Linked DNA regions of Homo sapiens. The gene in region 1 interacts genetically with each later gene. Each region holds a gene or a part of one and is shown in the gene's direction. Other genes may lie near its edges.

What was found. Genes that interact genetically often act in the same process or in processes that back each other up.
Region 2: changes in GOLPH3L (region 1) and CSK are lethal when combined (synthetic lethality), as found in Homo sapiens cells (one large-scale study listed by BioGRID).

Annotation. Positions count from the first base shown.
Region 1 is NC_000001.11:150,690,469-150,694,161, reverse strand, and holds part of GOLPH3L (Golgi phosphoprotein 3-like), read left to right. Parts: intron 1-3,693. UniProt on the Homo sapiens protein: Phosphatidylinositol-4-phosphate-binding protein that may antagonize the action of GOLPH3 which is required for the process of vesicle budding at the Golgi and anterograde transport to the plasma membrane.
Region 2 is NC_000015.10:74,791,913-74,795,605, forward strand, and holds part of CSK (tyrosine-protein kinase CSK), read left to right. Parts: intron 1-1,133; exon of another isoform or gene 1,134-1,336; intron 1,337-3,693. UniProt on the Homo sapiens protein: Non-receptor tyrosine-protein kinase that plays an important role in the regulation of cell growth, differentiation, migration and immune response.

The DNA of each region.
Region 1 (3,693 bases):
AGTTGGATTACGCGGTGGCTCACGCCTGTAATCCCAGCACTTTGGGGAGCCGAGGTGAGTGAATCACTTGAGGCCAGGAGTTCAAGACTAGCCTGGCCAACATGGTGAAACCCCGTCTCTACTAAAAATAAAAAATTAGCCATGTGTGGCGGCGGGTGCCTGTAATCCCAGGTACTCGGGAGGCTGAGGCAGGAGAATCACTTGAACCTGGGAGGCGGAGGTTGCAATGAGCCAAGATTGCACCACTGCACTCCAGCCTGGATGACAGAGTGAGACCCTGCCTCAAAAAAAAAAAAAAAAAAAAAAAAAAAAAATATATATATATATATATATATATATATACACACACACACACACACACACATACATAAACAATTGAGGATTATTTTAATTTTTGAAAATTTTTAAAAATAATTTTAGCTTTTCTCTTTTTTCCCTAAATGTCTCCTTATTTAATGGAACATTTATTTTATAGTACAGTTAGTCTTAAGGTCCTGAGTCTTGTGATATAACCAGAAATTTCCCTGGCTTCTCTACTAGTATACATCATCATCCTTCATTTGTAACTTTTTGCTGTGTTTTCTCATCACACTATTCCCTCATGAAGAAGTTACGAAGGTAACATTTTAAACAATCTGCTTTCTTTCCAGGAAAGCCTTAAATAACCGCCCCCCCTCGCCCACCGCCTGCAAGAAAAGAAAGAGGTATATTTATTACTGGCCTCAGTTTTGAAAACATACAAAATTAGAATGTTATTTTAGATTTTAAAAGTACTAAATTTGGCTTTGATAATTATCCTTAGCTAGAAGTGAATTGGCTGCATACAAGTAGTAACAGCTCTTCTTTTCTACATAATTCTTCGACTTGGAAATACCATTGTTGTTTAGATTTTGCCTTTCATTTATTTACTATTTTCCTTTTTACTTTTTTTCTTGTTAAATTACCAACTTGAACAAAATTTACAGACCAGTTATAGTCTGTGTATTGTTAAAACTAATATTAGAGACATGCTTATGTGTACCTGGCCAAGATGTAGGTATATCAGAAATTCTTGCCCGGAAATATATTTTCCTGTTTGCTGAGAAGTTGATGAGCCTTCAGTTTTATAAAAGGCAAATAAACGAAAAGGCAAAACCAGCTCTCCAAGAGAATGTCAGAATAGGACTGAAGATTAGGTGATATAAATACTCTTTTGAGACGTTTACACATTACCTAGGAAACAGTCACTGACTGTATAAAAAGAGGATATAGAACTAAAAGCTATTTGGTTTGTTTTAGCTTTGAATAGGAATGATTAATTTCCTGCTGACCTTATGCACTGGAATTTTTGCTTTTGGGCTTGTCTTCATGTGTTTATAATGGTTAATATAAATTTTAGGAAATAGAATAAAAAATAAAGCAGCTCATTAAGAGCTATGGCCATGGTGAGTACTTAACATATTGGTGAGATACTGTACAAAATAAGCAGATGGCTGGATGCAATGGCTAATTCCTGTAATCCTAACACTTGGGAGGCCAAGGTAAGAGGATTGCTTGGGCCCAGGAGTTCAAGACCAGCCTGGGCAACATGGTGAGACACCATCTCTACAAAAAATTTAAAACAAAAAAATTAGCTGGACATGGTGGCACATGCCTGTAGTCCTAGCTACTCAGGAGGCTGAGTCAAGAGGATGGCTTAAGCCTCGGAGGTCGAGGCTTCAGTGAACCAGGATTGTGTCACTGCACTCCAGCCTGAACAACAGAGCAAGGCCTCAAAAAATAATAAATAATAGCACATAACAATTAACCACCTTTTGAATTGCTCTAATTTTATTTTTGAGGATAGTTAACAAATATTTAGCTTTCATTTGGCTCAGGAAGAATAAAAGACAATAAATCCTTAGGTGTAAATGAATAGAAGAGGTCAAACTTTGTGATTTATTTAAATAGTAGTAGTTACAAAAGGCCAGTTACATAACTATCTCTAAAAATATTAAATTGATTCCCAACTGTACTTATTTTTTTCTTATCTCTCAAACTATCAATAGATTCATTTAATCAATATTTAATGTGATTGAGGACACCCATTATGTGCTTAGGATTATGCTAAATATTAATACTAAGGTAAATATAAAATAGTATAGTATATGGTCCCTGCCTTCAAGAAACTTGCATTCTAGCTGGAGAGACAAAAAGATACATACTTTTTAAAAGTTAAGTAACCCGAAGGTCCATCAACAGCAGAATGGATAAAAATGAATCATCAAAAAAAAAAAAGAGTCATCCATTTGTTTAAATGAGTATAAATATGTTTTCTATACAGAATGAAAATGAACATTGTTATACAACATGTATATTTCTCACATTATGTTCAATAAAAAAAGCCAAACACAAAAATATACATACTGTATGATTCCATTTATATGAAACTCAAAAAACTATTGTATTTGAGGTTGCATATTTAGGTGGTACAATTATAAACAAAATCAAGCCAGGAATTACTATAGTTTTTAGAATAGTGATTATCTTTTTGTAAGGGATAGGGGAAGGAAAAGGGTGTTAGTAATTAGGAAGGAAAATGGAGAGGATTTCTAGATAGTAACAATTTTCTGTTTCTGGACCTAGAGGAAGTTTCATAGTTTTGTTTTTGTTTTTGTTTTTGTTTTTAAGACAGAGTCTTGCTCTGTCACCCAGGTTGGAGTATAGTGGCACCATCTTGGCTCACTGCAACCTGCGCCTCCCGAGTTCAAGCAATTCTCCTGTCTCAATCTCCTGAGTAGCTGGGATTACAGGCACCCGCCACCATGCCTGGCTAATTTTTGTATTTTTAGTAGAGATGGGGTTTCACCATATTGGTCAGGCTGGTCTTGAACTCCTGACCTCTCAGGCGACCCACCCAACTTGGCCTCCCAAAGTGCTGGGATTATAGGTGTGGCCTCCCAAAGTGCTGGGATTACAGGCGTAAACTACTGCTCCCGGCCTTTTTTATTTATTTATTTATTTTTGATACGGAGTCTTGCTCTGTCCCTCCTGGCTAATTTTTGTATTCTTAGTAGGGAAGGGTTTTCAGCATGTTAGCCAGGCTAGTCTTGAACTCCTGATCTCAAGTGATCCACCTGCCTTGGCCTCCCAAAGTGCTGGGATTACAAGCGTGAGCCACTGCACCTGGGCCATAGATCTTCACTTTGGAATAATTAAGCTTTTTACTTTGTTTTGTTTATTCTTCTGTGTGTACATTATATTTCACAATGCAAAATATTTTTTTTAAAGTAAACAACAATAAAAAGCAAGTTTTTGCATGTTAGAATGAGCCAAGGGAGTTAGAGAGAGGAGAAACCATCATGAGATAGAGTAATCCGGGGAAGAATAGAAAAAGGCAGTAAAACAAGCCATGCCTTTAAAAATGGGAGGATTAACATGAATGGAGAAAAGGAAACACGTTCTGGATGAGGGAACCTGAGTGAGCAAAGGTATCATGAGCTTGATGAGTTTGGGAGATAACTGTGAGTAGGCCAGTATGACTGAAGTAGGTGGAGAACAATGGGATTCAAAATCAGTAAATTCGATTTGGACCAGATTATAGATTTTGTTACCAGGCAGAGACTTTTAGACTCTTTCCTTTAGGGAAAAGAGAATCAGCCTAATGAAAACAGCAAAGCCCATTTCATTTTTGTGTCCAAATTAAGGGCTTAATAACATTTTTATGTTCTTTGT
Region 2 (3,693 bases), on another chromosome or scaffold:
CTCCCTGTAGTGCAGGTGCTCCTTCCTGTTTCCAATTAGCCTGTGGGATGGGACTTGGAAGCTGTGTCTGTTCTGCTCCCCTGGCAACTTTTTCTTCAATGACTTGAGCTGGTGTTTTGCCATTTTCCATACTCTATCATGGGGAGTGTTCAGTATCGGCATCTAGAGATCTCCCCTGGCCCCATCACAGCTAGAGCTATGCTGTCCCCTTTCAGGGACATCTTGTAATTTATCCACCCAGCCCCCAACTGATGGACATAAAGGCTGTCTCCCCATCATCTCCTGCTACTACAGACAGCACTGCAGGGACTGTCCTGCTGTGTTTTTTTAAGGCATGGGTACTCCAGAAGCAGTTGCTCAGCTGCACCCCCAAGGTTGAGTGGAAGTCCCTCGGTAAAGGAGGAGGAGAGAGTGTGAAGGGAATGGCAAGGCGGGGAGGGAGACAGGGCACAGGTGTCCTGGCAACAGCAGATGGGAAACAGGTCTGGCTAAGGTACCAGAAGCCAACAAGTCCCAGAAAGGTCAAGTGACTTTCCCAAGGTCACACAGCAAGTTGATGGCAGAGCTGGGTACAGGACTCAGAGCATCTGACACCCAGGACGATGTTCCTGCACTGTTCCATAGAGTAGCCCGACTCTTAAGTTTAAATAACCCCAGGAAGGACCCCCTCTCTGTGCCTGACCCCCGCTGGGTTGTAGAGGCCTAAGTTTGCAGTAGCTCCTCCCAGCCACTCTGGCTGTCAGCCTCTGACCTGCAGTGGGAGGGTCTCACCTTCTGGAGATGTTTTAAGGAGGGGACCCCGGCCTAGGCACTAGCTGGGAAGCCACTGAGCCATCTTGTCTGCGGCCACTGACGTCAGTGCTTGGGCACAATGCCAGCCTGTTCCCGGGACCCCAGCACAAGGGCTACTGGGAGCCGGGTTTGGGGCAGGAAGTCAGCGTGAAGCACTGGTCCTGCCACATCCCAAGCCCCTTGTCCCCTAGCTCTGTGGGGGTGGGGTGACAGCTGCTATCGCTTTGGGGTTAACTATAGTCCCTTTGGGGTTAACTATAGTCCCATTGGTTATGGGACCTCAGTGTGATGTAGCCAGGCTGGATTCCCCCTTTTGTTTGTTCATTTATTCATTCATTCAGGGGTCTCATGACCCCACCAGGGAGGAGCCGTCCAAGAGAGTTAGCAGCTCCCACTTGCAAGATGTCTGTGGCAAGGCAGGCACTGTTCTGGTGCTGAGAGCTCAACTCCAGTCCTCACAGCAGCCCCCAGAGCCAAGGAGTATCACCAGTCCATTGCACAGATGGGGAAGCTGGGTTCTAGAGTCACAGCCAGCAGAGTAAAGGTGATGAGTTTAGCCCTCTTCCCTGTTTCCAGACCCTCTGAGGCCTTCAGAGCCCAGCTCCTTGAGGCAGCCCACCCCGACCGCTCCTAGGCTTACCCTTCCCTGAGCACCGCCCCTGTGCCCCTCATAGCTGCTTCTGCCTCCTCCCTCCTCCCTCCTCTCCCTTGCCCCTAGGCTAGTGTGGTCCCCATGGCAACTCCTGGGGCCTGTCCGGCAGGGAGGCACGGGGCTATGGGGAGGGCTGGCTCAGCAGCTCAGGAGTTTGACACCTGAGGGGGACAGAATGCTCACTCAAGGTGTGGCCCTAGGGACCCCCGCCTTGCCCCTGTGGGCCTCACTTGGGGTTCTCATCTGCAAAATGGGGATAATAATAGCTTCTCTGTCTCAGAGTTGTTAGAGGATGTGATGAGCCATAACGTGCCAAGGACAGGGCCTGGCACAGAATAAGTGCTCAGAAAACAGGGCCTGTTATTATTTTTATTATTATAATCAAGGCAGTGGGGAGGCGGCGGTGGCAGTAGCTGTAGGCCAGGAAGGGAGTGTTTGCAAACTGACAGCTGGAAGGGTGACTAACAGCGCAGCAGCCTCCGCGCCCCCCTGTGGTGGCAGGGAGTTTGGGGAGGAAGGGGGAGGCATGGGGATGTGGAATGCTAGCAGGGCCCCTATTCAGAAGGACCTAAAGGTTGGGGGCCCAGCCAGCCCTAGTGGGACCCTAATTCAAGCTCTGTCACCCCTAACTAGCTATGTGACTTCAGGCAAATTGTTCAACCAGTTGAGCCTCAGTTTCCGCTTCTGTGAAATGGGGGTAAGAGGGTTAGAAGAGCTCACAATCCTCCTTCCCTCCCCGCCACCCCCACCCCCACAGCTTACAGTCCACAGGAGGCAGGGGCAAGGGGTCCTCACCACCCCCACCCTCACAGCTTACAGTCCACAGGAGGCAGGGGCAAGGGGTCCCCGCCACCCCCACCCTCACAGCTTACAGTCCACAGGAGGCAGGGGCAAGGGGTCCCCGCCACCCCCACCCCCACAGCTTACAGTCCACAGGAGGCAGGGGTAAGGGGTCCCCGCCACCCCCACCCCCACAGCTTACAGTCCACAGGAGGCAGGGGCAAGGGGTCCCCGCCACCCCCACCCTCACAGCTTACAGTCCACAGGAGGCAGGGGCAAGGGATGGTTCCTGTACTTAGTGGTGACTGAGTCATGTGGATGGAGGCAGGTTTCAGGCTCATCCTCCTTGGGCCTCAGTGTCCCTGCCTAAACAGCAGGATTGATGGCCTGGCCTCTGGGGATAGAAAGGGCCCTGTATTCTGGGAGGAACGGAAGCTCTTTCATCCAGGGGATGGGGCAGGGGCGCACCAGACATTTCCAAGTTCAGGGTTTCATTCCAGCCCCTCCTCAGCCAGCTTGCAGGAGATACCTGTCCTCCCCTTCAGGGTAAGCAAGACTTAGAAGGGTTGAGTCACTCACCCCAAGTCGCACAGTCAACAGAGCCAGGTATTAAGCCCAGGCCTGACTATAGAGCCAGGTGTGCGGCCTGGAAGTGTTGGTTCTCCCTGGCCGTCTCCTCCCCAGCTCCTTCTGCTCTCCATGATCACATGCCCCCCTGCTGAGGCCCCATCGCCCTTGGAGTCAAACCCTGGTTCCTCACATTGGCAGTGGAAGTCCCCCTGCTGCCTGGCAGAGTTTATGCCAGGCCCACTTGAAACCATCCCCTACAGTGTCCCCTGAGCAGCGGTGCTCAAGGTGGACTCTGGAAGTGTGTGGGGTCCTAGAGCCCCAGATGGGCAGGGTCTGCCTTCCCGCTTCCCTCACCATCGGCTTCCACCTGGGCCAGTTTCTCATACTATGCCAGTCCCCTGCCTGACACCTTTGCTCAGACTGCTGCATCAACCTGGGGTGCCTTCCCTGGCCCGCCCTCTGCCTGTGTAAGCCCTGCAATCTTCAGGGCTCAGCCCCAGAGCTCCCTCCTCCAGGGAGCCTGTCTGAGCTCTGCAGTCCGTGCCTACTTCACACCCCCAGCACTTTGCACTAAAATGTCTTCTCCCGCGCCACTGCACTCCAGCCTGGGCAACAGAGCAAGACTCCGTCGCAATAATAACAATAATAATAAAATAAAATGTCTCCTTCCACTGGGGTAGGTAGCAATATTTGTGACTGTCAGCCTAGCCCCCAGACCTCATCCACTGTATCAAAGAGCCCAGCAAAGAGGCTCATGGAGGAGTTTCTCTTCTAACACACTGTGACCACGAAGATGCCACTGGCCCTTTCTCACCCTCAGTTTCCTCACCCGTAGAAAGGAAACAGTAGTTCCAGCCCCTCTGCTTCCTGAGACAGGTCCAAGGGGGCTCTGGGCTGGG